Regions from separate parts of the Homo sapiens genome. Here all the other regions are linked to region 1. The links come from fine-mapping of genetic effects on gene expression. A gene starts in region 1. Each other region holds a variant in brackets. All regions are shown on one strand. Distances are between the middles of the regions. Region 1 holds the start of FYCO1 (FYVE and coiled-coil domain autophagy adaptor 1). Region 2 has its middle 4.1 kb from the start of CCR9. Region 3 has its middle 12 kb from the start of SLC6A20. Region 4 overlaps FYCO1 (FYVE and coiled-coil domain autophagy adaptor 1). Region 5 has its middle 62 kb from the start of CCR1.

Region 1 (5,784 bases):
GCAAATTAGCTAACTTCTCTAAGGCTGTTTGCTTATCTGCTTAATGTGGATAATTATGTATCATGAGACTGATATAAGGATAAAACTAAACCAGGTGTGGAATACACATAACATGGCACCTGGCACATAAAAAGCCCTTAACAATCATTCCAAGAGCCTCATCCCTCCTCAGGGCCGTGGGCACGGTCAGCTTCCCGTGAGGAATAGTCTCCTCTTCTGCCACTTGTTAAGGCTGTAAGGAGAGGGTGTGGGGATTTGGTGATTTTGAATCTGATCTCTTAATGTGTATTCACATCAGAACACAAGAATATGCTGCGTTTGTTTGTATGTTTGTTTGAAAGATTATAGTTTGAAATACTCTGCTGTATCTATAAAGGAAATCCAAGTTAAACTACCTGAACAGTAGTGATTTTGTTAACCTTCCCTGTATCTGACAGTGTGCTGGGTGACAGAAGACCCCTCAGGAGCCCCCAGCTCTACCCCAGCCTCCACCACTCTCCACCACTTATTAGGTGGGTGGACCAGGACAGTCATTTAACCTCTCTGAGCTTCATCTCCTCATCTTCAAAGTATGATAATGAATACTAATTATGTCACCAAGTGGCTGCAAGTTTTAAATATAATGCTGAATGGGTTTTTGTTGTTGTTTTTTGTTTTTTTGCTGGGGGGCTAGGGACTGGCATATAGGTCCTCAATAAATATTAGGTTTGTTTTCCTTTTCTTTTCAAACTCCTTTTGGGTTTAAGTTTCTGTGGTATTATGATGTCTGTCTATCTGTCTGTCTATCTATCTATCTATCTATCTATCTATCTATCTATCTATCTATCTATCTTGGTTTTCTTCCATGGTTCCTGGCTCATAACTCCCATAGCCCTTGTTACAGTCTTTTGTTATGTTAGGTATGTTAGGCTTCAGGAAACCGAATCTCTCTGGCCTTCTGCCCTCCTTTCACCTGCTTTAAGGCAGGACTCTAATCTTCCCCCGCCTTTCTTTCTTTTTTTTTTTCTTTAAGATGGAGTTTTGCTCTTGTTGCCCAGGCTGGAGTGCAATGGCTCGATCTTGGCTCACCGCAACCTCCGCCTCCCGGGTTCAAGCGATTCTCCTGCCTCAGCCTCCCTAGAAGCTGGGATTATAGGCATGTGCCACCACGCCCGGCTAATTTTGTATTTTTAATAGAGATGGGGTTTCTCCATGTTGGTCAGGCTGGTCTCAAACTCCCGACCTCAGGTGATCCGCCCACCTCGGCCTCCCAAGGCGTGAGCTGGGATTACAGGCGTGAGCCACCGTGCCCAGCCGCTTCCCCCGCCTTTCTGATTATAGGTCTTAAGACCCTCCCAAGAGAGGGTCCTCCCCTATACCCTGGGGGAAGCAATGCTGACATCACGAAGCTTCCATAAAAGCCCAAGAGGACTGGATTCGGGGAGCTTCGGGATAGCTGAACACGTGGAGGTTACTGAAGAGTGGTGCATCCAGGGAAGGCATGGAAGCCCCACGCCCCTTCCTCCACACCTCATCCTACGTGTCTCTTTATCTGCATCCATTGCAGTATCCTTTATAATAGACCAGTAAATGTGTTTCTCTGAGTTCTATGAACCACTTTAGCAAATTAGCTGAACCCAAAGAGGGTGTCGTGGGAACTCAACTTGAAGCCAGTCATTCCAAAATTCTGGAGGCCTAGACTTACAACTGGTGTTTAAAGGTGAGGAGGCAGTCTTGGGGACTGAGCCCTCCACTTGTGGGATCTGATACTCCAGGTAGATAGTGTCGGAATTGAATTGGAGGACACCCAGGTGCGGTCCACTGCTCAGTGTGTGGGGAAAACCCCACACACATCTGGTCACCAAATTATTCTCCTGTGTTGATGATTGCTGTTGTGTAAGAGTAGAGGAAAAATACGGTTTGAGGGAGGTTTTTTTTTCCCCACACAGTTTCAAACAAGGATATTGGACCAGATGACCAACATTAAAATCTCTCTCATCCTTAATATTGCATGAAGCTGTTCAGACAGTGGTTGGAGCAATGATTTCTCTTAGACCACTACATTGATTACTTTTCTCTTTGTCATCTTCTCACTCCCCCCGTTTTCTTTCTGTTCTCCTTTCTGTTAACAAGAGTGGAAATCACTTCTATTCATGTACCTCCTCCCAACCCCACCCCCAAACTGACTACTCCATCCATCCAACTCACTGTTTTAGCTACATCTAATTTATAAAATTAGATGGCTAATGAGATGTCATAGCCTAAAATCGACTAAGAAATTGATTTTCTTTCTGTATTATTGTACCCAGACAACACCCTGCTTCCTCAGTTTAGAATGTTGGGCCACCACGGTTCCTGACTGGATACCACGAGCTAGGTCCTACAAGGGAGAGAGCTGTTTCTGGCTTAAATGATGAGAACTAGGGCAGAGAGTAAAGGATAGCCAGCCACAGCTAAGGAATGCAGTCAGTTAGAAGCCAAAGTCCCCGTGTAGTGTTCCTCTTTTCTACTGTGCCCATAGCGGACACTGATTGAATGCATTTTGTTCTATCGTATTCAGTTCCACAGTGCTTTGCAACACCCATCTTATAAATAGAAGTTGGGCTGAGGATGGGGCCAAAGTTAGGGGTGGTAGTTCATAAACACGTAGTTTTTGAGCACTAATTTTAAGTAAGACCCTGATATTAAGAAATAAGGGGGATTAAAAGATGGGAAATTAGGCCCACCAATACATGTTTTTCTATTTCCCAATATATCAAAATATTATCATTTTAACATGCAATCACTAAAAATTAATGAGCTAGTTAACATTCTTCGGACTCTTTGGTACCTAGGTGTATTTCACACTTACAGCACGTGCACGATTCAACTCGAACTAGCTACCTTTGGAGTGCTCCTTAGCCACACAAGAACAGCGTTGTTGTCAAGATGCCAGACCTTTGATTTGTGGCCCTCCGGGGTTGCAGGCGTTAACCTGGGGCCAGCATGGGTCGCGGGTGGGACAGTCGGTCCGGGGACTGGGCGGTGGGAGCACTTAAACCCCGCCCTGCGGAGTCGCCGGGAGTTGTAGTCGGAGCCCCGGGAGTCCGATGGGAGTTGCAGGCCTCAGCCCCGGGGAGCACGCCGGGAGTTGTAGTCCGCCCCCGCCACCCTCTTGGTGTGCGCGTCATGGCCGTCAGCACCGCGTTCCCGTCCTCTTCCGCTTGGCCCCAGAAAGTTTCGGTTCTGCCCGGCGGTGGACCCACGAGCGCGTAAGTGCCGCGGAAGACCGGCTGGACTCTGGGGGCACCTGGGTCGCTCACGATCCCTGAGGCGAGAGCTTCGCTCGGGGCGCGGCTTGTCACCTGTTGCCCTTACAGTCCCCGCCCATCCCAGGTCTCCCTCAGACCCTGCCCGAGCGCCCCCGTCCTTGCCCAGCGGGCCGGGAAGCACCTCGGGCAGGTGGAAGCCGGCCCAGGCACCCAGCCTGCCTCTGTTGGTCGGTTAGAAAGACAGACCCCAAACACCAGTTCCAAGACCCCGGAGGGCGGAGGGCCCGCAAAGGAAAGGAGCCCACCATGCGGCGTCTCAGAACAAGCCTGAATGTCTTAGCGCAGGATGGGGCAGGCCCCGGAGTTCCTGCCTGCGTGGTCTTTAGGAAGTTTAGTCTCTGGCCCAGTTGGGCCGGGACAGCCCAGACCTTCACTTTGCAAGACTCCGCTGGTGCTCGGATCTCTGCCCTCTTCCCAGGAGGGGAAGAAGCTTCTTTCTTCCTGGCCCATCCTTTGGCCAAGACCTATTCACTATCCACTGCCCCTTGTGCCCATGCGCAGGGTCTCGAGCTAGCCCCCAGGGGTCTTTTCCCGAAACACCTGTTGTCTCTGGTGTGGCGGCACTGCACTGGACTGGAGTCCGTGCTGTTGAAACCTGGCGGGGGTGGGGCGGGGAGGGGGGAGGATGGCGGGATTTTATTTTTTGTAAGAAAAGCACATGTGGTTGACACGTTAACCGCGTGGCCCCCTGTTAAAGCACATGTATTCTCTGATGTCCCTGTCACTCTTCACTGTTCCCATTGGGTGTCCTCTCCAGAAAAAAAAATAGAACACTTGTTGAAACTGCCTGTGTTGGCCAGAGCCTCTCAGCCCCTCTGCTTGTCTTACCACAGCAGTTTCCTTTCCCGACAGAGAAATGGGTCAGGGGCTTTTGCGGGGCAGAGGATCCAGGGCTTAATCTGCTCACTGGTTCTCCTGCCCGTGCAGGCCTTGTGGTCTCAGGCTGCAAGCTTAATTCCCCTGCCATCTGCCTAATGCGGCTGGAGGGTGTTGGGGGCTGGTGTGGGGGAGGGGTGGGGAGCTGGAGCTATCATGCCAAGGTTTTCTGCTTTCAGTAGTTCCCACCTTCTGAAGTGGACCCCTGTTGAGTGAGCTCCACTTGACCCTCCCTTCTGTGACAACCACTGTTCTGAAAGCATTGAATGCCCCATACTAGTTGTGCACCGTGGTTATTATCACCCTGAAAATAAGAGCTAATTGTCACAGTGATGGATCTCAGCCTCCTTTGATTAATAGGATCTCTCCTAAAGGCTCTTGCTTTAGGAAATAGAGTTTATCTGTTTATGTTCAAAGTGACTATCTTTGTGTAGCACTTCATTTACTTTTTAAATTGTTTTTAATATTTTATTAGAAAAATAAACATACAGAATCACTGAAAGGATTGTATGGTGAATATCCGTATACTCAATTCTTAATATTTTACTTTGATTTTTTTTTTTTTTTGCAGTTACTTTAGAGATTGGTAACAGTCTCAGGCAGTGATCCTTTAGCTGTTGTTCCGATGACCTTTGCCCCTTGGGGCTGGGTTTGGAGCACCAGTATAATTTCAGGAGCCAAGTTTTTAACCTGGTCCTTTTTGAGGGGGATGGCCCCCATAGATGTTTGTGATGAGAGGAATCACCCATAACAGAGCAAGATCAGAGCAGCTGGTAGCTTTGACCCATATTGGTCACCAAGGCTATGGACTGCTGACTCAAGAATACAAAGTAGGTACGCAAGAAATGGCAGCCCCCTCACCCCCACCCACCCTGCTTCCCTTTAGGGGAGATGTTTAGCTGATAGGTAACTTTTGTTTACTGAAGATTCCAAAGACACAGCTTTGGTGACTCAAGACTAGAATGTCTTTAAACATGAGGCAGAGGAAGTGTGTTGTCTAGCTGTGGTCTTATGGTGGAAATCACTGGTAGGCACCTAGATTTAGGAACCACGTTCACTGCAAGCAGCCCTAGGCAGCAGGTAAGGGTCATTAACTGGTGCCTGTGATTACAGAGGCAACTTGTGAGCACAGATGAGTCCATTATGGTCAGGGCAACATCTGCTCACGTCATGACTGCTATGTTCTTGTCTTAGTCAAAAGATAAACAGTATTTTGTTTGTGAGCTCAATGCCAGTTTCAAGAAAATAAGAAGTCTTTATTGGTATAAGAGCCTCTATCTGAGCAATTAAATAAATCAATAGGGTGGGAATTGGAATGTTTCTGTGGTTCTACCTATGGAAATGCTGTTTACCTTCTTGCTGTTCGTTGATACATCACAAAAATGGCTGAAATGTCTGTACTACCCCCATAATAAGAGCCATTGCCTTGGAGCAAATGGGCCCCATGGCTTTGAGAAGAGGATGATGGCAGAAGCTGTGCTCAGTTAGGCAAGAGCAGTTTTATCCCTTTTCTCACATGGGAGCCAGTCAACCTGTTGATTTTAGTAACTTCCAGTGGTCCTTCCTGTTCACTTGGATCTCTGTGGCATTTGAAAGGCACCAAGGGCCTGTTTCTCAT
Region 2 (6,296 bases), 110 kb after region 1:
TATTGAAAGGCACTGCTTTAGAAAGTCTGCCTGTGAGATGTAGCTAGGAACACATGGAGTGCTGGAAAGCCACAGACACCTTCAAATTGGGGCAAATCTAGTAAGGTTTTGCACATCAGATACATTAACAAAGATAATACAATAAATTGTATTAATTACAGGTGTTTTGGTAAAACTTTGAAAAAAGCTAAATATACAAAATATTGCATTTTTAATGAAGATCACAGACGAAGTCTTCCCATCCACTGCTACAGTGGGGACTTCAATCCTGATGTGATTAATGATTTCCTGTCATTGTTATGACAAAGATCCCTTTTATATATTTGTTCTGGGGGAAAATCATGACTACACTCTTGTGGATGTTAATTTCCACCTCTTGGTGTATTGATTGTCCCGAGGACTCAATGCCGCTCTGTCATGGCGTGGTACTCCCAGGCGCATGTCCCCTTCATCACCCTCAGTTCCCGTAGAGCAAAGGGATGCAGAAGGTGCACTTGGGTTTATTGTCTAAATGGAAAAAGGCCAACAAATAGGTCATCTGAAAGGTAGAGGGCATGCACAGTAAGAACGAAAGAGGTGTCTGATTCATCAGCCTTAAGGAACGGCGGTGCGAGGGAGCCGTGAAATTCCCTTCCCTCGGCGGGCGCTCATTGCAAATAAATGGTGTCTGAAACTATACATAGCTGAGAACCAGCCAGATGCTCTGGCATCTCACTCCTCCCTCTCACTTGGCAAATAAAGACACAAAAGGAACTGGTGCTAGAGGGAAGAAGATGTTCCCTTACTTGACTTTCTTGGCTGAATTTGTTTCTCCCCCGTGTTTGATTGCGTCCTTGGAAAGCTTGCAGCGAGGTGAGACACGCACTATTGCAATTGCCATGGGTGAGGAAAAGCCTGTGCTTCTCCCTTCTCTTGACTCAGGCTGTTTCCTCATCAGGTAAGAGCATACAAGGTAGACACTGCTTGCCCCTAGACGTTGGAGTGAGTCTCGGGGGAGGAAGGAAGGTGAGGCTGGCCGTCAGGGAAGAGGAGAAGGGGTAAATGCACCGGTGTGGGAAGATTCCCTCCTCTGCACGGGTCCCCGTGGTCCAGGTGAGGTGGGGAAGCTTAGGTAGGTTCTTCCATCCAGGTCTGGAAGAGCTGCTCTAGAGCACTCACATGCCCTCTCCTGGGATGCAGAGAGGATCATGAGGCTGGGGAGAAGGGAAGACGCAAGGAAGTCATAGAGAGAACTTCCGCTTTCTCAAAGGAGCTTGTGCAAATGTGACTCCCTTTGCTGCAATCTAGTTTAGGTCCATTCCTGAAAAAAGCCCTATCCTCTTGTTTTCTTTGCTGTGTTTCTTTCTTTGCAACTAGAATTCAGAGCTGGGTGACTATAAAAGGTTGCTGGTCCCCTTTTCTAAGGGCTATTTCTCTCTTGCATTCTCACCCTGCCAAAGGTGAGTTCTGGAGGACAGGGCACTATAAGCATACTCTGAGGGAAGAGATGGAGGTTCTCTAGAGGCTGAGTGCCCTCTGTGGTGCCCAAGGAGGCTGAGCTCTGTTCCTGCGAGCCCCAGTTGTCAGACCTGCTCAGATCTCAGGATTTCTTCAGGACCCAACCTACCCCAGAATGGCGTGGAGTGCAGCACATTCATTTGTCACTGAGCCACCTTTCTGGTTCCAAGGCTGCATCTGTCCACTGGACTAGTGAGAGGATTGTCAGTGTTTTGCTCCTGGGCCTGCTTCTAGCTGCTTAACTGAATCCTTGCTCTGTGATGGCCTACTCCGTGGCTGCAACTCTCACTCTTCATGGTCTTGGGGCCTTGGACAAGTTGTTCCTGACTGTGTTCATGGGGATGCATTGCAGAAAGCTGCCAAGGCAGGCCTTTTGGCACTTTCAGCTTTAGCCTTTTCTGGGCTTTGCTCTTTCAACTATCATGATGTGGGCATCTGCAAAGATACTGCCACATTGTAGAAGCGCTGACCTTTTTGACTTATACTTTGAAGAATTAATGCATGCCTCTTTGCCTTCACTTTGTCACGCCATTCAACTCACAATAAGGAAGAAATAACAGATAAATCCATTGGTGGACAGCCATCTTCTCTTAATCACCAGACTATTTTCAGAATTTAAGCTTTGAGGAAAAGGTTTGAGAAGAATTATGTCCAAGAAATTGTGAGACTGAGGTCTGTATTCTGGTGAGTTAACGGGGTTGCCTCCCAGCTTCTTATAAGACTCACATATAACTCAACATGATATATGAGCTTTTGCCTTTGAATTTATCAATCTCTTAAAGAGAATCCAGCTTTATTACTATTACTACATGATCAAATTTCTTCTGTACTTGCCTTGGGAATAATGGGCAAAGAGAAATACTGTTAATTCATGAATAAAAACTTTGCAGAAAATGAGACCGTGTTTAATTTTCAAAAACTTCCCTCTCTATTCAGTAGACACCAGCTACTGATGGTTACATATTCTAGGGGAAGTTGAAAATTAGGAAATGCTGATATCTCACATTATGAATTTCTAAATCCTAGGAAGAAAAGCTTGGAATGCTTCTGAGTATAGCAAAGTTCTGTTTAAGGGCAAGGTCCCCCTTGTAGAAGTATCAAAATATTACAAATTCTAAACTGAGACTTCATTCTCAAATGTGTTTTACTTGTTCTAAAACGATCTGTCCACAAATATAGAACTATAAGTAATAAACTGTTATTTTCCCACTAGAGGAATCTCTAATACAAAAATGCATTCTATGAAAAGAAATTTTTAAAAAAATGTTAATAATAATAATAATAATAATAATAATAATAATAATAGTATCCCCTTTGGGTTATGGACCAAGTGCTGTACCTGGCAACTGAAGAGCATTTCAGGAATAACTGTGGACTAGAAAC[A/G]GCAATCCACAACGCTGATACCTGTAACAGAGAAAAGACCCAAGCTGACTTTGTTGCAGGGGCCAACAGGAGTGCTGAGTCTGTTCATTACAATATATGATCAAGTCGGTTACCTCTTGTTCATTCCAATATACCAAGTATCTAGCACAGTCTCTGGCACAGAAAAAATTAATTTTACTTCAGTCCTCTACTTTTTAGGTTCCCCAAATTGAAAACTACTATAGATTTGTAATCTTGTTCTCCTCCTTCCTTAGCCTCCTGTACATACTGGGAAAGTCATATTTCAAAAGCATATTGGGGTCTTTGGAAGAGGACAATGCTGTCTTTCTACTTTTCATTGATTAACGCCTTATCTTGACTTGGAAAGCCAAAGTGTCTGGAGGCAGTTAGTAGTTGGTGGTGACATTATGATCAGTGCAGGTAAAAAGAGTCCTAGGTCCAAATTTCCAAGGAATAAAGTCTGCAAGGACCCTTTTTTCCCCACTAATCCATGAGGAAAGGGACTATGTGGATACTGGCCATGGTTGAAGCCCAGCAGCACATTCTAGGAGAATATTAAACATCTTCTGACTAAATTAATGCAAAAAATTCACCTGATATAAGTCTTGAGGATCTAGAATAGAGCCATCTAATAGCACTTTCTGCAATGTGGAAATATTCTATAGCTATCTGTCCAGTGTGTGGCCACATATAGCTAGTGAACATGACACTGTGGTTAGTGTGATCTTTTTAAAATCGTTATTTAATTGGAATTAGCTTAAATGGAAATGTAAACAGCCAACATGGCCAGTGGCCACCCTAGTGGATTGTACAGGTCCAGACCAACCTGCTATTCAGCAGCTAATATTTCTACCTCGGCTCTAGCCTTAGATAGCTCACATTATGATGCAAGCCAGGGCAGCTGGCCTGTGGCAGACTCACTCCCTTCTGCAAGGGGGTGAAGGGTGTGAGGCTGAGCTCTTCCTTCCCCAGTAGCACTCAAGCCAGGGCAGGCTTTAGCTATACTGGTTTTCTAGAATACCTGTAGATACTTTTAAGGGCAAGGTCCCTTAAAAGTATTTTTACACATTCTTCGTGTGTCGCAGTTAGTAATCAAAACCCTTAAAGGACAGGAATGAGGAGAAAGTAGTCATTTTTGCTAAATTCAGTTACCATGAATAGCCCTTGAAGGTCGCGGTGTCAGCTAGGAGGCAATTCTCAGAGAGTGAGAGAGAGAGAGGAGGAGGGGGCCCGCACCCTGCAGCAGCAGCAGGAATGGGAGGGACAGGACAGACATGGCCAAGTGCCCCTCAGGAGCTGCCAAATGATGAGATGTTGCAGGAGGAAGAGAACAAAACCAGTTGGAGGCTGTGGGAAGACTTGGGTATCTTTAACTGAGCAAGTGTGTGGGAGGAAATGTTGGTTTTGGCAGATAGTGATGCATGTAGCACTGGATGTGATATGGCTGAGGTGTTGAAGTGAAGGTGTCTAGCAGGTCGTTAGATATTCCCCACTGCAGCTCAGAGGGGAGGTCAAGAGTTCAGTGGTGTGGCTGCCAAGCTGCTGCAGAATACAAGCTGTTTATAAGGGAAATATGTGTCATCCTCAACTCCTGAGGTTTTGTGCTTGCAGCACCTGAGTCATGAGACCAGTCAGAGGATTTTTTATTTTTATTTGTCTCATCTATTAATGATAAAAATCATCCCTTCTGCCCTCACACGCATTATCTCATTGGAAGATCTCATTGGAATCCTTCATTCAACATGTACTTGTCAAGCTCCTACTATTTGCTGTCACTGTTCTAAGAGGTTGGATGTAGCAGTCAGCAAGACAGAGCACATTAAATAGCGACAAATGCCATGCAGAGAATCAGTACAGACAGAGGTGATGGAGGGAGTGGCGTGGGAAGGGGGCCCTCACACTGGATGGTCTGGGAAAGGCCCACTACAGTAGTGACACTTAAGGCCTGAGTGACAAGAAGTTCCCATCAATGTGAAGATTGGAGCAGCCATTATCAGCAGAGGGAACAGTTGGCAGGAAGAATTTGACGTGTCCAAGGATGAGAAAGACCAACAGGCAGGAGGACAGCTTGCAGTGAGGGGCGGCCAGATAATTTGGAGGGGCACGAGCATGTTGGGCTTTGAGGCTGGGCCAGTAGTTTTCACCTGATGCCAGGTGTACAGAAAGCTACCCAAAGGACTTATATAGGTGATAACACGATCCGATTTCCTTTTTTTTTGAGATGGAGTCTTGCTCTGTCGCCCAGGCTGGAGTGCAGTGGCGTGATCTCGGCTCACTGCAACCTCCACCTCCTGGGTTCAAGTGATTCTCCTGTCTCAGCTTCCTGAGTAGCTGGGATTACAGGTGCCCATCACCACGCCCAGCTAATTTTTGTATTTTTAGTAGAGATGGGGTTTTAGCATGTGGGCCAGGCTGGTTTCAAACTCCTGACCTCGTGATCCGCCTACCTCGGCCTCCCAAAGTGCTGGGATTGCAGGCCTGAGCTACCTCGCCTAGCCTGATTTCCATTTTTAACAGATCACTGATTGCTGCATGGGAAACAACAAAAAAACAGCAAAACCTTTGGTTCTGCAGGCACCAGAACCAAACGTCTAAATGAGAGCCTTGCCTTGGCTGGGCTGGCCTAGGCCACCGCAGGATCCACCCTCAGCTCTGCCTGTCACTGTCCCTTCTCTGGACCTCTGCCTGTACGGAGGCATCATGGTAGATTCAGGGTGCTTACATCCCTCCCTCCTGCCACCCCTGATGGAAGGAGGACACACACACTAAACGTCACCCAGGGAACATTTCTAGTGATGACCATCATTATTCACTGAGAAGTGCTTATGGGTTTTTTTAAATACATATTTTTATCATTAATTCCAGTTAATAATGTTGGGTTTTTTAAATAGGCTTTGTTTTTTAGAGCAGTTTTAGGTTCACAGCAAAATTGTGCAGAAGGTACAGAGAGTTCCTATATACCCGCTCCCGCAGCACATGTGCCACCTTCCCACTATCAACATCCTGCATCAGAGTGGCACATTTGTTATAATCAGTTCATCTACACTCATACATCACTATCACCCAAAGTAGTTTACTTTAGGTTTCACTCTTTGTATTGAACACTCTGTGGGTTTGGACAAATGTATGACATGTATCCACCATTAAAATAACATACAGAATAGTTTCATTGCCCTAAGGATCCTCTGTACTCCACCTATTCGTCCCTCTCTTCCACCTTACTCCTGGCAACCACTGACCTTTTTACTGTCTCCAGTTTTTCTTTTCCGGAATGCCGTATTTGTTGGAATCATACAGTATATAGCCTTTTCAGATGGGCTTCTCTCACTTACTGATATGGATTTAAGGCTCCTCCATGTCTTTTCATGGCTTGCTAGCTCATTTCTTTTTAGTGTTGAATAACATAAACTATTGTC
Region 3 (6,296 bases), 190 kb after region 1:
GCGCATACCTGTAATCCCAGCTACTCGGGAGGCTGAGGCAGGAGAATCGCTTGAACCCGGGAAGCGGAGGTTGCAGTGAGCCAAGAGGGTGCCATTGCACTCCAGCCTGGGCAACAAGAGCAAAGCTCTGTCAAAAAAAAAAAAAAGAAGTGATAAGGGTGGTTGAAGCTGGATTTCTTTTTCAATTTAAGTAAAACTTATGTACGCAAAGTGCACACATCATAAGCATACAGCTCAAAGAATTTGCACAAAGCACTAAGGTACCCAGATGAAGAATCACTCATTATCTGCACCCCTAGAGGCCTCCTGTGCTGGCCCCCAGGCACCATCTCCTTCCAAAGGTAACCACTCTCCTGACTTCCTTTTTGAACTTTATGTACGTGAAATCATACAGCATAGACTCTGTTGTGTCCAGCTTCTTTCAACACTGTGCTTGTGAGTGTCATCCCTATTGTTGCATGTAGCAATTTTTTTTTGTTCTCATTGCTGTATAGTGGCAATATTCCATAATTTATCCATCATACTGTTGCTGGACATTTGGAGTTTTGCTAGTCTGTGGCTAATACAGAGAATGCTAATATAAACGTCTAGTGTGGATCTTTTGGTGTAGGTATGTACATCTAGGAGTGTCATTGCTGGATCACAGCATATATGAATGTTCAATATTAGTAGACACTGCCCCCCAAATTTTCCAGGTGTCCAATTTACACTCCCATCAGCAGTGTCAGAGAGTTAGGTTCTGGATATATTTTGAAGGGAAAACTAATAGACTATCAGCACAGATTGAAAGGAGATGAGAGATAGGACTCAGGATGACTTCAAGGGTTTGGGGCTGAGCAACTGCTAGGCTAGGCTTGGTGTCAACAGAGATAGGGAGCTGGCTTTAGGAAGGGAAGTGGGCAAAGATAAGAAATTCTCTTTCTTTTTTTTTTTTTTTTTTTTTTTTGAGACAGAGTCTTGCTCTGTCGCCCAGGCTGGAGCGCAGTGGCACGATTTTGGCTCACTGCAACCTTCTTCTCCTGGGTTCAAGTGATTATCCTGCCTCAACCTCCCTAGTAGCTGGGATTACAGGTGCCTTCCACCATGCCCAGCTAATTTTTACAGGTGCCCGCCACCATGCCCAGCTAATTTTTGTATTTTTAGTAGCGACGGGGTTTTGCCATGTTGGCCAGGCTGGTCTCAAACTCCTGACCTCAGGTGATCCACCTGCCTCGGCCTCCCAAAGTGCTGGGATTACAGGCATGAGCCACTACGTCTGGCCAGAAATCCTCTTTTAGACAACCATGAAATGCCTCTCAGACACCCAAATGGGGATGTTGGGAGGCACCAGACATACAAGTCTAGACCTCTGAAGTGTGGTCTGGACTAGAGATACAACATTGGGAGTTATCGGTGGAGAGGGCTTTTAAACCATTAAAGAGGTAGGCACACCAAGGAGGTGAGTGTCAGTGAGAAGCCCTAGGTGCTCCAACCCCAAGGAATCAGGGAAGAGGAGACATCAGCAAAAGAGATGGAACAGCAGGGGCCAGTGAGAGGAAGACCAAGAGAGCGTCTCCCTGGATGCTGGCTGGGCAAATCACATCAGCAGGAAAGAATCATTACCTGGGTGGCATGCAGCTGGCAGGTCCAGGAAAGGGACAGCTGACTGTTGGATTTAGCTATGTGGGGGGTCACTGGTGTCCTTGACAAGATAGTTTTGTTGGACTGCTGAGGGGCCTAGCTGAGGTGACTGTGAGAAGTAACAAGAGAAACTTGGAGACAAAGTAAGCATCGACATCTCTTGATTGGCTGGGCTATAAAACAGTAAAGCGAAAAAAAAAAGGGGGGGCATAAGGTAGGTAGAAAGGAAAGTAGAATCAAGAGAAGGGATGTTTTTCTTAAAATATGGTGGTCAAGACAGGCCTTACTGAAGTAGAAGCATGGTGTTTGTCTATTTTCTGCCTCGCCACCAGAATGTATCCTCCGAGGGGGCTGAGATCTGTGGTTGTCTTGTTTATTGCTGCATCCCCCATATCCAGAACAGGGTCTGGCACATAGACTCGATACCTCTCTTAAATAAATGAGCAAATCGGGCTTGATAAACAAGAAACACATATAACATGCCAAATAGTGCCCAAGGGATACAATGAAGAAGGAAAGAGAGAAACAATGTTGGGGTGGTAGTTGACATTTTACATAGGGCTGTCACTAAGGCTTCAATGACAGGGAGACTTTGGAGCAATGACAGATACATATAGTGGTGGAGGCCTAAACCAAAGCATGAGGCCAGAAAAAAAACTCATTCACAGATGATATAATTGTGTATGCAGAAAACACACAACAATCTGAATTATCCAAATAGAGAATTTAACACTGCTAGAGATAGAGTCATTCCATATGATTAAAATTTTAACCCTCCAAGAAGATATAACAATTTAAAGTTTGTCCTTAATGGCTTCAGATTCTATAAAGTAAAAATTGACACAATTAAAAGAAAATAGAAAAATTCACAATCATAATGGAAGATTTTAACACTTCTCTCAGTGATTGATGGAATGCACAGACACAAAATCATCATAAGGATATAGAAGATAGGAACAATACAATAGCAGATTTGGCCTAATAAATAAAACAAACTGCAGCATCCAATTTTTTTTCTCTTTGTGCAAATACAGAATATTTATGAAAACTGGCCACACACTATACCAAGTCTCAACCACCTGGGTGATGGCTACAAGAGCACTTGTCTTATAATTATTATTTATACATGTATTTATTTTCCATAGTATGCTGTATGCCATATATGCTGTATTATAACACAAAAAGTACGGCATAGGCCAGGCGCGGTGGCTCACACCTGTAATCCAAGCACTTTGGGAGACTGAGGCAGATGGAACACCTGGGGTCAGGAGTTCGAGACCAGCCTTGCCAACATGGTGAAGCCCTGTCTCTACTAAAAAATACAAAAAATTAGCCAGTCGTGGTGGCATGTGCTTGTAATCCCAGCTCCTCAGGAGACTGAGGCAGGAAAATTGCTTGAACCCAGGAGGTGGAGGTTGCAGTGAGCTGAGATCACACCAGTGCACTCCAGCCTGGGTGACAGAGTGAGACTCCATCTGCCCCGTCCCCACCCCCCAAAAAAAAAGTACAGCATAAATGAAACAAAACATGGCAGACAATGATAACACGTCATTCTGGGTAGGCTGTATATTGGGAAATGGAAACAAAGTCAGAAGGGAAGTTTTGGGAGCACTTAATTCCCTATAATACAGTAGGGAATCGATTTCACAAAACCATTCCCAGGCAGTTGAGCTATTTTCAGACAATATAGCACCTTGGCAAGCAGGGAAAAGATTTTGGGCTCCTCAAGTTCATGAGAAGAAATTGTTGTTGCATCTGTGATAAATTATCTTTAAGACCTTTTCCTGTTGACTCTGAATGTATTTTAGAAGAGAAATTTTAACAGTGGGAAAGAGCAGGCAGAGGTGGACCTTAAACAAGGGACATTGGGGATATGGAAACTGGAGGGGAGCCAGTGGGGAGAAGATCTAGAAATGTTAATAATGAGTGGCACGGCAGTGTTGGTAGGGATCTTCCTCTTCTGGAGAAGGGTATCCCACATCAGCCACCATGGAAGCTTCTAGAAGCCAAACATTCAAGAGACTCCTCTGCCAAGCT[C/T]AGTTTTTCAGGGAGTCTCGTGCATCTGTATTTTAAAGCTCCATAGATAGGATCCTGATGTGCAGCCAGGGTTAAAAACCCTGTGTGCTCCTGAGACATTAACCTGCCTGCAAATCCCTTGGGGGGGTCTTTTTAAAAATAGGTTCTGATTCTAGAGGTCTGGGAGGGGCCTGAGAGTCTGCATTTCCCACAGGCGCCCTGGCGATGCCGACGCTGCCCATCGCTAGGCCACATTTGGAGTATGGAGCAGGGAAAGAAATCAAATATAATTTGAACCACCGAGCTTGTGAAATAAAGCATGTGTGTTTTCTGGCAGAGTAAGATTCACAGGGCTTCTCCTGTTATGAAATGAAAAGAGCAAGTACAAAACAGTACAGCAGGACACAGTGAAATTCCTTAGGGGGTCACTAATTGAGACAGCATGGCCCCAGGTGTACCCTGACCCTTGAAAATATTTTCACAGTGCTCCATCTGTTTTTCTCCACCAGATTATGCCTTCTAGTTGGTATTGATTGCTTGTTCCCAGCAAAAATATTTGAGGTGAAGGAATAAATTCAGCCAAGACCAACAAAAAGGAAGGAAGGATTCCACACTGCTCTCTGAGTCCCTTGTTTTCACAGCACGTGGCTGAATCTTCCTTAATGCAAGGGATCAGCTGAGTGATCGTGGTGAGAAGCCACAATGTTTTCTAAACAAGCTCATTTCTGCATCTGTTCTCTCTGACCTGAAAAATGCCTCTTTGTTCCATTCCTCTTGTTCCTTTAGAAAGGACGCCCACTTTGTGTTGTTTACTCAAATTAGTTACTTCAGACAACAATAGGCATCAATTCACAGAAAATCCACTCAGGTTACTCAGTTGACACAGTTGTCCTTTGGATGTAGGCATACAGGCAAAAGGATATAGAATATTAAAATCATTGTGTAACCTTACTCAGAGGCTCAGGAAGCCCTGAGTTTTTACCAGTATATACTGGTGAAGTACAAGTTCAAACATTTATTTTAGTATTTCCCTATATTATTTTAAGTTAGGCTTTCTTTGCTTTCAAGTCTTAGATGTCTTTTCATTTTCCTTTATTTTTAAGGCTGCCATTCAAGTCATCTGTGTCCCATTAGTTGTTATCATATCTCACAGAAGTGTAGCCAGAAACAGAGCCACAGCAACACAGAGCTGTAGCCTGCAGCTGCCAACCCAGTGCCAGTTCTGTGCAGCCATGTTGCCTTCAGCTCTGGCCAGCAGTTCCTCCGATCCTGGAGGCTCTCTGCGTCTTGTTATATTTGCCAAATATTCTAAATTGCTTGGAATAGCTCAGTGAAGAAGGTCAGCACTACGCCCCATTTGGTGAATGTAAACTCAGGAAGGTTGTACACTTTTTATTTTATTATTTATTTGTTTGTTTATTTGATGGGGTCTTACTGTGTCACCCAGGCTGGAGTGCAGTGGCGCATTCATAGCTCATTACAGCCTCCAACTCCTGGGCTCAAGTGATCCTCCCACCTCAACCTCCCAAGTAGCTAGGACTACAGGTGTGTACCACCACGCCTAGCTAATTTTTTAAAAATTAATTTTCTGCAAAGACAGGGTCTCACTGTGTTGCCCAGGCTGGTCTCAAATTCCTGGCCTCAAGCGATCTTCCCACCTCGGCCTCCCAAAGTGCTGGATTATAGGCGTGAGTCACTGCACCTAGCCTATACACTTTTTAAATTCAAAATTCCATCAATAATAAATACAGTTAATTGCCTAAGTGCCTATATGATGTTATAATGTGTGTGTGTGTGTGTGTATGTGCGTGCATGCATGTGCCATATAAAGACTAAATTAACACATTCTCTGCAAGTTACAGGGGGAAAAGGCCATATTAAATGACCCCACAATGAAATAATCAGTCAAATCCTGAATGTAAGACATTATACAATTCAAACAGTTAGCCTGGTCTCTTTAGAAAGTCAATGTCATGAAAATAAAAAGGTGGGAAAACTGTCCTAAAAGCAACTGTATTCATAACAACCAAATGCAGTGTATGAATTCTTTCTATCCTGGAAAGCTATAAAAGAAATCTGGGGACAACTTGAAATGTTTGCTTTGCATACTTTCACAAAGTCTAAAGTTGTTCACCTCCTTAGAACATTTCCGCTCTTACCACTCATCTGTCATATGCTATTTTACCTGTCCAAGATTTAAGTTCTACCTTTTAATTTTTTTCAAAATGCCACAAATTAAACACTCCTCTGCGGTGAGACCTTTGATGTGGGTTAAGGGCCTCACCCTGATGTTCTGGAGCATGATCATGAGGCATCTTGATGGGCATTACATTTTTTTATCCTACGTAGGATTCACTGGGCTTCATGAATCTGTGGTGGGAAATGTTGAGCTGTTGTACTTTAAGTGTTTCTCTGTTCCAGTCTCTCTTCTCCTTCCAGAATTCTAGGTAAGCATATATTAGACTTCATTGTCCTACATAGCTTATTTATATATCTTAAATTTTTTCTTGGTTTTTGTTTCTTATCTCTCTGTGCAATGTGCCACATAATTTTTTCTGACATATCTTTGCGTTCATCAAATCTCTCCTTAGCTGTGTCTCATCCACTTTTAAATCCATCCACTTAATTTTTAATTTCTATTATTGCTATTTGTAGAAGTT
Region 4 (6,296 bases), 81 kb after region 1:
AATAAAGTAAACACTATGACATTTAGACATTTGTCTCTCATTTTTTTGGGACATAAAGTGCACCACGAAGTTATACAGAGCTGAGTTGGGGTTGAGCTGTGCTGCTGGGAAATAGAGCATCTTTTATGGTGGCTTTTCAGGAGGACTTGAGCCAGCAGATGTTCTGGGAAGTTTCCAGGTGGCCTGGCACCTGGCTGCTTCCTGGCCTGCTGTGAGGGTGGTGTTTAGACCTGCCTGAGACAGCCTGTCTTTCAATCCATGCTGTTGTGCCCTATGGGCTTCTAGCCTCAGCTCAAATGTCCAGATCTCCCAGGGCACCCACAGAGCATGTTGAGCAAAGAGCAGACTTCTGAGTTTACCGGAACAATGGGGCTGGGGAGAAGCATCATGGATGGCCTAAAACCATGATTGGTCAATATGAGGTACAAAGCTGGGCAAGACTGCCAGGCTGAGATGGCTGGCAGAGGAAGAAGTCAGCCCTCCCATTCCCGCATACCTTTCTCTGGCTGGGTCAGCAAAGAGCCTGGACAGAGGCCCAGAGGGGCATGCCCTGGTCACTGCTGGATGTTGGACTGAGCTCAGGCTGGGCAGCCCACCCACACTCACCTCACACCCCCACTCCAGGGATGACCAGGGCTCTGTCCCTGCAGTGCTCTGCACCTCAAAAGAACACCTCCCCACACCACCCCTTCACCGCCCTTCCTCCGCCAGCCCTCTCCTGCTGCCAGACTTTCGTTTGGCCTCTTCTTTAATCTGTTACTCCATGGAAGAAGTCACATTTTCTGTAACTCTGGTTCTCTCCCAAGGATAAAAGACAGTGAATCCTTCATCTTTATCTTCATCTCCCTCCTCCCTTCTCTCCCCACCGCAGCATCGAGCAACATGCCAGGCAGGAAGGGACTCAAAAAATACTGAATTGACCTCTCGGGTCAGTCCCAGTGCCCTGGGTCGCCAAAAAGTCATCAGCATTCCCACTGGCGACTAACTCTGCCAGGAATAGAGGCTCCTGAAACACTCCGGTGGCAGAGGAGGGAAAGGGTGGGCCTGCAGGAGGAGATACAGGCAATGATAGCTGGTCACTCAGTCCCACCCCCTGCACCCCCTCTTATGTCAAAGATGCCCTTGGGCTGGGCGCAGTGGCTCACGCCTGTAATCCCAACACTTTGGGAGTCCAAGGCAGGAGGATTGCTTGAGCCCAGGGGTTCAAGACCACCTGGGCAACACAGTGAGACCCCGTCTCTACATTTTTTTTTCTTTAATTAGCCAGGTGTGGTAGTGCATGTCTATAGTCCCAACTCAGTAGAGGCTGCAGTGAGCCAAGATCATGCCACTCCACGAGTGACAGAGTGAGGCCCTGTCTCAAAAAAATAAAAAGGTACCCTCAGATCAAGTATCTATCTAGTAACCAGATTGCAGTAATGGCAGATAGTTACTCCACCTGCCCCAAATGACAGAGCCAGAGAGTTTCTTTGTTAATACAACAGTCCTTCCTGAGGCTTGGGGGCCTCATGGGCTGGGGGCTAGAACAAGAAACAGTTGAGACATACATATATGTGTGTGCTGTGCATCTGGGGCTGGGATCTGGGGACCTCCAGGTCAAAATCCTCCATTCCACCTCACCCCACCCTGCTAAACTGCAGAATAACTCAAGATGACCCAAGTCTTTGCTGGAGGGTTTCCAAGCCCCACGCTTGATTCCAGGTAATCCGGGCCCAGTTCAGTGTTCACAGGCTCTGTGGCACAAAGAGGTGCCCCGCCCCTCCCTGCCACTCTGCCGGGTGAGGGCTGAGGATGCAGAGACTCCTGGGTGACTCAGAAGGCTCCTCACAGCAAGGTCAGCCCTTTCAGTTTGAAGACGCGTGGGAAAAATCTCCTCTTGCCACCCACACACATCTGAAGAGCAAACAGATGGTGAAACCAGTAGCCCAAGATGAGAAAACGGACTTTTTTTGAGACAGCAGTTGAAGCTGAAGCCTCAAAAGCCGGGCGGGGGGAAAGCATAGCAATTATGAAAGACATTCAAAGTGGGTTAGGGGTGAGGGAAAGGTCAGCCTTTTACTTTTCCCACACCCGCTGTTTTCTGAAGAAGGATGGTAATGCGAGCAGAAGGGTGATGGCCAACCTCTGGGCTTTGATGTGTGTCCCCTCCTCCCGCCCCCATCCTGCAAGCTCTGGGGAGGTCGGAGACTAGTGTGGTTTCCTCACACCTCCCACCATGCTGGCACTGAGGTTATCTAAGAGTTGACAGCCCCATCTAAAGCCTTGAATGAATTAAGTCTTTTTTAGCTAAAAAATGAACAAAACCTGAGATGCATGAGTGTCCTTACCAAAAGGAAGTCCTTGTTTCTAGGACAGGTCTGTCTTCGGGCCTGTGGGTCCATAGAATCATCACAGAAAAAATGATTTCAGGAGGTCTCCCCCGCTTTCTGCTCCCAAGGCCGACTCTGACTGAGCCTCGGAGGAGAGAAGGAAGCCATTTCTGGGAGGCCAAAACGTCCGTCTTCCAGGTCAGTGGGGCAGGTGCTGTCTTCTCCCTGGCTTGAGAGAGGAAAGCTGGTGAGGGAGAAGGGTGGGGCGGAGGTGGGCGGTGCGGGGATAAAAGATCGGAGAGCAAAGCAGTGATGAGAAAAGAGGGGTAACAGAAAGGGCCTCCCTAAAGGCTGCAAGGAGGGCTGGACCCAGGGCTGCTTAGCAGAAGCCATCTTTCTCATTGGAAGAAAGGGGCAGTGAGAAATGACGGTGTCGGTGTGGCTGAAGCTGCCCCATGCATCTGGTGGAGGCAGCACTTTAATGTAAGGAAGCCTGGACCATTGAGGGAACAGACACCAAAGGCAGTGACTGCTGATGTGGAAAGACAAGCCGGTTTGTTCCTCTGCCTCAGAGGTGGCTTCAGGGCCCTGCAAGCTTTCACAAACAGGGCCCTGCATGCTTTCACAAGCAGCAGGGGCAGCAGCCTCAGTCCAGTCCTCCCACGACGCTTGTGAATGAGCGACAGGGTTCCTATGTGGAACCCAAGGTCTTGGAAGAGGCAGCTCCTCTGCACCAGCAGGGACGCCACCCAGCTGTTGGGTGGTCTCAGAAAGAGGACCACACATTCATGCCCTGAAGGTGACCAGTGGAAGAAGGACAAGGAGACCAGAACTGGTCCTGGATCAGGCCCCCATCTTCTTTGGTTATGAAAGTTTCAGGTATTGAGCCATCAGGAAAAGCCCAAGACTCACCCAGGGCTCAGTTTTGCTCCAGAGTCAACTGTTCATTTATTAGGTGTCAGTAAATAAAAGGAAGTTGCAGAGAGATTCTTAGGAGAAG[G/A]TTCTCTTGCTTTAGTTACCTGAAGGCATATTAAAATGCAGATCCAGCCAGGTGTGGTGGCTCATGCCTATAATCCCAGCATTTTGGGTGGCCGAGGCAGGAGGATCACTTGAGGCCAGGAGTTCAAGGCCAACCTGCATAACATAGGGAGACCCCGTCTCTACCAAAAAAAATTCAAATATTAGCCAGGCGCCTCTAGTCCCAGCCACTGGGGAGGCTGAGGTGGCAGAATCCCTTAAGCCTGGGAGTTTGAGGCTGCAACTGTGATTGCCCCACTGCACTCCAGCCTGGGGGACAGAGTGAGACCCTGTCTCAAAAAAAAAAAAAAAAATGCAGATCCATGGGCACCACCCATTCCAATTCTGGTTCATCAGGTCTGGTCCATTCACAGGTCCTCCAGGTGATGCTGGAGCAGGTGGTCCTGGTGAACGTTGCTGTGTCACCACTGTTTTGATTAGAATTTGAGGAAAGGAGGAAATGAACTAATTGATCTGTCTCCTAATTTAACTCTACCTGTGATCCTTGAATCTTGGAACCAGGCCGTCTTCCTCAAATCCATTAGCCCAAGCACTAGGGCGCAATGATGGAAATTTCAGTCTTGGAGAGGAGGATGTTTCTAAATGAATCCCCTGGTATAAAACTATTCTAAGGGTAAAATAGTTTACAACCATAACTTTTTTATGGCTTATATTTTTATTCAAGGGTTCTGGTGCCAACTGGCAGATCATTTCTGAGTGGAAAAACATCCCCTTCCCCAAATCCAGAAGAGTTCCATACATGTCCAAATTTTAAGAAATGGAGAAAGTATCCAGGGGGTATGCGTTGGGGAGGTCAGTTTAGGAGGGAGTTCCTAAGCTGGTCGGTACACAGAATCAAAGGTCTTTGAAAATGGGTGGGGGAAAAAATGGCATCTTTACCCTAACTACTAATTAAAATTTAAGTCTTCCTTCAATTATGACTAGAGACAACATGCCACACTAGTACTAGCTAGACCTGTCACTTTGTCACCAGTAGAAATGGCAGATATTTTTGTATTACATGACAATTTCTGCAGACTCTCAAAGTATCATTTATGTTTATCTCCACTCGGAAATGAAGGTTGTCATTAGATCTGATAGATTTTATGTAATGCATTAGTAAAAAGACACATATATTACTAGTTCATATATCTGCTTTAATATTTGGAGAATTGTGTTTCAATTTAATTGGTTTGTAATTCTATTTTATTGTTTGCATTTTAAAGCATTCTGAGAAAGGGGCTATAGGCTTTGTCAGATTGTCAAAGGTGTGGATGAGGCCAAAAAAAAAAAAAAGTTAAGGATCTTTAGGTTGTGGCAGGTCCTCATGAAAAACAAGAGAAAGATCAGCTCATTGCAGCACTGGTTTGTTAATAGTAACAATAGTAGCATTGTTTAATTTGTGTAATTGTATAATTTTCTAGGCTCTTGCTGTAAGTCAGCCCACTTTTACAGATGAGGAACCAAGACCCAGGGAAGATGGTAAGTCTGAACCATTTACAGAACATATTACTGCTACTGCGTTATGCTGAGACAGCTGTAGGAGTGGTTTTCTCTAAACCATTCTCATTTTACTTGAATTTAGATTATCTGATGACTTATAAAAAGCTTTTCCATAAACCAGGATTTGCTATGGCAGCCCTTGACCTTCAGACCTTTATTATGATTGTTAATACAAAAGGCTGTATCAGTTACCTGTTGTCAGACCAAGCTGCATTATTCTGCGTTATTTGAAGTTGGATAACCTCAAAACCGTGGCTTAAATCACTGAAGATTTATTTTGCTCACGAATATGCAGGTTGACTGGGGGCTCTGGACTCTTGGTGGGCTCACTCCCTTGTCTGCCCGTGGTCAGCTACGCATTGAGGCTGTGCTCCCACATGTCTGAGGGTTGGCTGCTCATTGGCTAATCGTGGCTGGGGTTGACTCCTACATCTGTGGTCAGTTGGTCAAAGAAAGGCTGGCTAGGCTAGGATGGTCTTGGCCAGACAACTTGGCTGTACTCCATGTGGTCTCCCTGACCCCAACAGGATAGCCTGGGCTTATTCAGATGGCCACTGAGCAGGTTTCCAAGAGAGTGAGTAAAAGTGCCCGAGCTTCGCAAAGCCCAGTCTCAGACCTGGCACATCATTTCAACAGTGTTCTGTTGGTCAGAGCAAGTCACAGGCCAGCCCAGATTCCAGGTGTGGGAAAAGGGACTCCTCTGGATGGGAGGAACTGCAAAGTCACTTTATAAAGGGCACAGGGACAGTGAGGGGTAGAGAATTGGGACCATTTTTGTAATATTTCTACCAAAGAGTCTATAATCTTCCCTTCTTGCACATATTTCCACCTCAATTTTCATCTTCAGTAAAACACCCACCTTCTCCTCCAGATACACTCATACAAGTACGCAAAAACACACGCAACAATCTTCATGGCCACAATGTCTGTGATAGCAAAAAACAGGAAAGGATTTGTTCAAAGTGGGTTGGATTGAAGCAGTATATGACGGCACCCTGGGAGACTATGTGACGAACACTATTCACACCCATGCGACATTTCCTGACAAAGACGCTGGACACAGCAGTGGCTGCCTTGGCAGATGGAGCTGGTGGGGCTTTGGAGTTGGTGGCAGGAATAAGATGCTTTTACTTTTCTCTTTATACTTTTCTATGTCGTTTGAAGTATTTTTAGTAGGTGCCAGTTTAACTTTTAAAATGCGAAAACTAATTTCTAAAAAGACATTCACATCATCTTACGGCCATCTCAAATTCCCAGTAAAAAACCAAATGCCCAATTCCTATATGCTGGAGTCATTACACAGTTGTTGATGTCTTTCTGCATTCACCAAAGGGGTGACCTACTTACCAGCAAAGCTGAACGGCATAAAGCCATGAGCGGGGAGGGCCTGGGAGGAAGCCACAATATGGCCAGAGTTCCTCTTCCCCTGCCTAGGGGCTGGCCCAGCTAGGGCCCCCTGTCCTCCTG
Region 5 (6,296 bases), 150 kb before region 1:
CTTGCTAGCGGTCTATCAATTTTGTTGATCCTTTCAAAAAACTAGCTCCTGGATTCATTAATTTTTTGAAGGGTTTTTGTGTCTCTATTTCCTTCAGTTCTGCTCTGATTTTAGTTATTTCTTGCCTTCTGCTAGCTTTTGAATGTGTTTGCTCTTGCTTTTCTAGTTCTTTTAATTGTGATGTTAGGGTGTCAATTTTGGATCTTTCCTGCTTTCTCTTGTGGGCATTTAGTGCCATAAATTTCCCTCTACACACTCCTTTGAATGTGTCCCAGAGATTCTGGTATGTTGTGTCTTTGTTCTCATTGGTTTCAAAGAACATCTTTATTTCTGCCTTCATTTCGTTATGTACCCAGTAGTCATTCAGGAGCAGGTTGTTCAGTTTCCATGTAGTTGAGTGGTTTTGAGTGAGTTTCTTAATCCTGAGTTCTAGTTTGATTGCACTGTGGTCTGAGAGACAGTTTGTTATAATTTCTGTTCTTTTACATTTGCTGAGGAGAGCTTTACTTCCAACTATGTGGTCAATTTTGGAATAGGTGTGGTGTGGTGCTGAAAAAAATGTATATTCTGTTGATTTGGAGTGGAGAGTTCTGTAGATGTCTATTAGGGCCACTTGGTGCAGAGCTGAGTTCAATTCCTGGGTATCCTTGTTGACTTTCTGTCTCGTTGATCTGTCTAATGTTGACAGTGGGGTGTTAAAGTCTCCCATTATTATTGTGTGGGAGTCTAAGTCTCTTTGTAGGTCACTCAGGACTTGCTTTATGAATCTGGGTGCTCCTGTATTGGGTGCATATATATTTAGGATAGTTAGCTCTTCTTGTTGAATTGATCCCTTTACCATTATGTAATGGCCTTCTTTGTCTCCTTTGATCTTTGTTGGTTTAAAGTCTGTTTTATCAGAGACTAGGATTGCAACCCCTTCCATTTGCTTGGTAGATCTTCCTCCATCCTTTTATTTTGAGCCTATGTGTGTCTCTGCACGTGAGATGGGTTTCCTGAATACAGCACACTGATGGGTCTTGACTCTTTATCCAATTTGCCAGTCTCTGTCTTTTAATTGGAGCATTTAGCCAATTTACATTTAAAGTTAATATTGTTATGTGTGAATTTTATCCTGTCATTATGATATTAGTTGGTTATTTTGCTCGTTAGTTGATGCAGTTTCTTCCTAGCCTCGATGGTCTTTACAATTTGGCATGATTTTGCAGTGGCTGGTACCGGTTGTTCCTTTCCATGTTTAGTGCTTCTTTTAGGAGCTCTTTTAGGGCAGGCCTGGTGGTGACAAAATCTCTCAGCATTTGCTTGTCTGTAAAGTATTTTATTTCTCCTTCACTTATGAAGCTTAGTTTGGCTGGATATGAAATTCTGGGTTGAAAATTCTTTTTTTTAAGAATGTTGAATATTGGCCCCCACTCTCTTCTGGCTTGTAGAGTTTCTGCTGAGAGATCCGCTGCTAGTCTGATGGGCTTCCCTTTGTGGGTAACCCGACCTTTCTCTCTGGCTGCCCTTAACATTTTTTACTTCATTTCAACTTACCTAGCACTCCTTTCTCTATGTCCAGGATGCCACATTACATTTAGTAGTTGTGTCTCCTTCAGCTCTTCTTGGCTGTGACAGTTTCTCAGACTTTCCTTCTATTGGTGAACTTGACAGTTTTGGTAGTGCTGGTCAGGTATTTTGTAGCATGTCCTTCAAGTGGGATTTGTCTAATGTTTTTCTCATAATTAGACTGGAGGCATGGGTTTTGGGGACGAAGACCACAAAGCAGAGTCCCTATCTCATCACATGATATCAAGGGCACAGACAATCAACATCCCTCATGCCTGTTCATGTTAACTGGTCATCTGGCTGAGGTAGTATTTTTCAAGATTCTTCACCGTAAAATACTCTGTTTTTCCTGAAGCAGATTTTTGAAGGACGATTGATAAAAAAAAATTGTTTATATTTAAGGCATACAACATGATGTTTTGATACACATAAGCATTGTGAATGATTACCACAATCAAGCTAATCAACATATGCATCATCTCACATACTTATCACTGTGGTGGGAACACTTAAGATCGACACTGTTAGTGAATTTCAAGTATACAATACAGCAAGGGTCCCCAGCCCCTGGACCATGGACCAGTACTTGTCCATGCCCTGTTAGGAACTGGGCCGCACAGCAAGAGGTGAGCAGCAGGGAAAGCCAGCATTACCACCTGAACTCTGCCTCCTGTCAGATCAGCGGCAGCATTAGATTCTCATAGGAGCTTTAACCCTATCGTGAACTGTGCATATGAGGGATCTAGGTTGCACACTCCTTATGAGAATCTAATGCCTGATATCTGAGGTGAAACAGTTTCATCCCAAAACCGTTCCCGCCACACTGGGTCTGTGGAAAACTTGTCTTCCATGAAACTGGTCCCTGGTGCCAGAAAGGTTGGGAACTGCTACAATACAGTATTACTAATGATCATCACCATACTGTATGTTAGGTCCCCAGAACTTACTCTTAACTGAAAGTTTGTACCATTTGGCCAACATGTCCTCAAGGGGGTTGATTTTCATTGGTTTTGTTGTTACACCATGATCCAGGAAGGTGTCAAGGACGCCAGCAGGCAGCTGTCCCCGTCACCGCAGACATTGCTGAATGACTAAACCGACACGCATGCATATCCAACCCTCCTTCCCTCACTCATGCCAGTGGACAAATCAGGGCTTTTCGTACCCTCACTGGGCCCTGCAAATTTCTACCCCCAGGAGTGGAGGTTTGGCTTGGAGTGGCAGCTCTGAGAGCTGTTGTGTCTGGGGACTACTGCTCTGCTGGTTGTGTCGGGGAACAAAGCCCAGGCCTGATGAATGGACACCTGCAACCTCCCTGGAAGTGCCAGAAATCTTGTGAAATAAGACTTGGTAGAAGATTTAGTAGCTTTTTGACAAGTAGGCAGGAGCTCAAAGTCATCAAATTATGGACATGAATGTCAACAGGAGCACACTTGTTCATGCCCATTGGTAAAGCCCAAAATGCTAAGGGTACATGCGTATGATTTTTAAAAACTGCATCCTCTTGTCATATTATGGCTTTTGCAGAGGGCAACAACTCTCTCTTACTTCCTCCGGAACTCCCCAATACAGAACTCACTCTGCAAAAGGTGAACACCTTCTAGATGGTCTGATATGTGCTTGGTCAAATATGACTAAAGTTATTTTGCGGCTGATTAATAAGGAACTCGTGGGGTTTTTTAAACATGTAAATGACTGAATGATGGAAGAATTACTGAAGATCTTTTAGTGGAAAACCTCATTTCCTGTATTTGGAATTTGATTTTTGTTTCCATCTGAGCTTATGAGTATGTAGATTTTAGAGGCCAGCCCTGGCTTCTCTCAATTGAAAGAAATGTAGGTTAATATTCTTTAAGGAATTTCTTTTCTGGACTTTTTGAGGAGTTTCAGTACAATAAAAAACACAAAGTGAATGTGTACAAAATAAGAAACTATTAAACTCTAGTCCACTGATGGTATCTGACTAGCAGCAGTGATGTGAGTTGTTTTAATGTTAATACCATCATATTTGGATGCCCTGTACTCCTTATATAGCCGTAGGCACCACTTCTTTTTGTTGTCTGTAACTACACATGTACCCCTGCTGGCCCCCAAAGATACTGTAGTGTACAACTGTGGCGCTAGAGACTCCTGCCACCCTCAAGATGAAAGGCAACCACAAGTGCTTCCAAGAATGAGCACCTTCTGCTTAAAGGAAAGAGGCCTCTTATAAAGATACCATGGGAGGCTGAATACTTGCCCCCAAGGATACCCAGGCTCTAATCCTGGAACCTGTGAACTTATATAGCAAAAAAGGCCTTGCA[T/C]GTGTGATTAAGTCAAGGATCTTGAGATGGGGAGATTATCCTGCTAAGCCTTAAACATAATCACAAGAATATAAGAAGAAGGTAGAGAGAGATCTGAATACTAACGAAGAAAAGGCAGTGTGACAACAAAAGTAGAGATGGGAGTGATGCAGCCACAAGCAAAGGAATGCCATTAGCCAAGAAAAGTTGAAAGAGACAAAGAATAGATTTTCCTCTGGAGTATCCAGAAGGAGCCAGCCCTCCCAACACCTTGATTTTAGTCCCATAAGGTTCATTTCAAACTTCTGGCCTCCACAACTGTAAGAGAATACATTTGCACTAATTTAAGCCACTAAATTTTTGTTAATTTGTTACAGCAGCAATGGGAAAATAATACAGACACCATGGTCACAATTTCCATCCTTCCTAGAGCTAGCCATCCAATCTATTAGGAGTCAGTACTTTACTCCTCTTTTTCCATCCAGATGCTTGATACCATGATGTCCTCACAGCATCTGATTTTTTTAACATTTAAAATTTTATTTCAGAATTGTTTGGCAACTGTTGAGCGAGATGTTACAAGACTAGAGTCAAAATGCTCTCAATTTTTTGGTTCCACATTTGACCCCTTTGGAGACTAAAAGACTCTGCAGAATGTCAATTCCAGTGCAGGAATACCCTCTGCAATAGGTCAACAGAAGGTCATCCAGCTCCTTTCACATTCCCCTTCAGTAACTAGGACCTCACTTTCTTCCATTTGTTCACAAGGACAGGGTGTCCTTATTCTGAGTCAGCCAACTTCTGAGTAGCCCAAGACCTAAGAACTGAACAGCAGATACTGAAGACAGAAAAGCATCTGGAAAAAGACCAGAATCAGAATTGAGACCTTATTGCTAACCCTCCACATCTAAAAGAGTTGACCGTTACTTAGTGTAATGGGGCTGCTGAATTATATGTGTGGTGATCATTGTATATATTCCAAAACCAGTTGTTCATTCAACCCGAAGATAAACTATCCATAGTGAGTCTTTGATTCTTCCCAAGTGCTGGGTAGATGGTAGGAGAGTAGACTACATTTGTTTTCTAAGCCTGGTAATAATCAGCTCTTCACAATCATTTTTCTAGCAAGTGTCTCAAGATGGGCTCTTATTAGCCTAGTTGTAAGTAGGCCTTTTTTACTTATGACCTAGTCACAAAATAGTTGTTTCCCCTGAACTGATATCCATCAACAGCGCTTACCATCTCATTTTTGTATTTGGCTATTTTTTAAAGTATCAGAGCATTCCCAGATTTACTTTCTTTCTCCTTAAATTTCATCTTGTTATTTTCAGTTCAGTGACCCAGTCTGTCAAGATCCATTTGAACCTTCACCATTGCCATTCACCTTCGCATTAGCAATCCTAACCAGTGTTTTCTTCCTTAAAATTGACTAAGCAGTAAATGCTACATAGAACATTGTTCTGTAATCAATTATAAAATAATCTCTGTAAGAGAACTAAAAATTTAATTGGCATTGTTGAGCTGTGCCCGCTTCCCTTCTTTTGTGGAAGCCAAAGATCAATACCATAGAGATCAAAGTAGTGCAACGTTCCCTGGCCTGGGCAGCACTGCAGGCAGTAGTGGGCACAGAGGTGGGTCATGGGTCATGGAGCCTGGGGTGTGATCATGGATGTGTACATGGGTGTGCAAAAGGGAAAAAGGAAGAGGACTTCTGTGGGGCTCATTGAGAAAGAACAAAAGGAGACCTAGGAGGGCAGAACTGAGTGGAGACCAGGGACAGCTGATGCCAAGACCTTTTGAGATGTCCTGTAACCACTTCCACAGAGTTAATTTTGTGATCTACTTTCTGTTTCTCTGCATTTCAATACACAGCATTCTTTGGAAAGGAGTCTGTGTCCTTTCAGATCCTGCAGAGTGAAGGAAAAGAGGAAGAATCTCTGCCAAGAGGAAGCAGGGACAGTGAAAGCTCAATGTGGACCAAATCCAAAGCAGTGGAGGGAGGTAGGGCTGCCCGGAGCCCCCTTTGGCACAGCGCCCCTGCCCCACAGGGAAGGCTGCAGGATGGAGTAGGAAGCAAAGGCCTCTGCGCTTTTGATTGCATGCTGCCATCAACAACAGTTCTGGACATGTGCCTCTGACATATGAATATGCATTTGTTTATTTTTACAGATGTGTTCTACTGTAGTAGTGTCTTATGTGTAGAATAAAACACAAAAAAGAAGATAAGGGGTTGTGTGCCCAGCCCGGGCATGCAGTGGAAATGCAGGGCAGGGGAGAGGAGGCCTTCAGGGCACCACATGGGCCCCACGGTGCAGCTGGACTTCCTTCTCAACCCTCTTGCTTCCTTCAGACTGGGGTCAGATCAGCAAACAAAGGGCCTCTGATGGTGATTGTTGAATATTGCAAATATGGAAATCTATCCAACTACCTCAAGAGCAAATATGACTTATTTTTTCTCGACAAGGA

The links. PIP is the estimated chance that this variant, and not a neighbour inherited with it, causes the effect.
Region 2: its variant is the best candidate, but not a certain one, in a credible set for the expression of FYCO1 in sigmoid colon (GTEx, PIP 0.77).
Region 3: its variant is the best candidate, but not a certain one, in a credible set for the expression of FYCO1 in whole blood (INTERVAL, PIP 0.67).
Region 4: its variant is the best candidate, but not a certain one, in a credible set for the expression of FYCO1 in tibial artery (GTEx, PIP 0.88).
Region 5: its variant is the best candidate, but not a certain one, in a credible set for the expression of FYCO1 in whole blood (INTERVAL, PIP 0.56).

Annotation. Positions count from the first base shown.
Region 1 is chr3:45,993,168-45,998,951 of GRCh38, reverse strand. It overlaps FYCO1 (FYVE and coiled-coil domain autophagy adaptor 1), which reads left to right and starts at 3,128. Exons shown (of 18, transcript NM_024513.4): 1 at 3,128-3,230. It overlaps LOC105377063 (a long non-coding RNA gene), which reads right to left and starts at 3,049. Exons shown (of 3, transcript XR_940799.3): 1 at 2,863-3,049. RefSeq lists enhancers at 3,100-3,259, 3,280-3,329, 2,830-3,329, 5,375-5,784.
Region 2 is chr3:45,879,304-45,885,599 of GRCh38, reverse strand. It overlaps a transcript of LZTFL1 not described here and the pseudogene SDHDP4. Among named protein-coding and RNA genes, the nearest start is that of CCR9, 4.1 kb to the left of the region's middle. RefSeq lists a promoter at 1-41 and a silencer at 5,155-5,311. The variant A/G (reference allele first, on the strand shown) is at 2,881.
Region 3 is chr3:45,805,870-45,812,165 of GRCh38, reverse strand. No RefSeq gene overlaps it. Among named protein-coding and RNA genes, the nearest start is that of SLC6A20, 12 kb to the right of the region's middle. The variant C/T (reference allele first, on the strand shown) is at 3,658.
Region 4 is chr3:45,911,632-45,917,927 of GRCh38, reverse strand. FYCO1 (FYVE and coiled-coil domain autophagy adaptor 1) reads left to right here. Exons shown (of 18, transcript NM_024513.4): 18 at 1-25. It also overlaps a transcript of LZTFL1 not described here. Among named protein-coding and RNA genes, the nearest start is that of CCR9, 28 kb to the right of the region's middle. RefSeq lists enhancers at 1,751-2,020, 1,460-2,659. The variant G/A (reference allele first, on the strand shown) is at 3,310.
Region 5 is chr3:46,143,586-46,149,881 of GRCh38, reverse strand. It overlaps the pseudogene FLT1P1. Among named protein-coding and RNA genes, the nearest start is that of CCR1, 62 kb to the left of the region's middle. The variant T/C (reference allele first, on the strand shown) is at 3,852.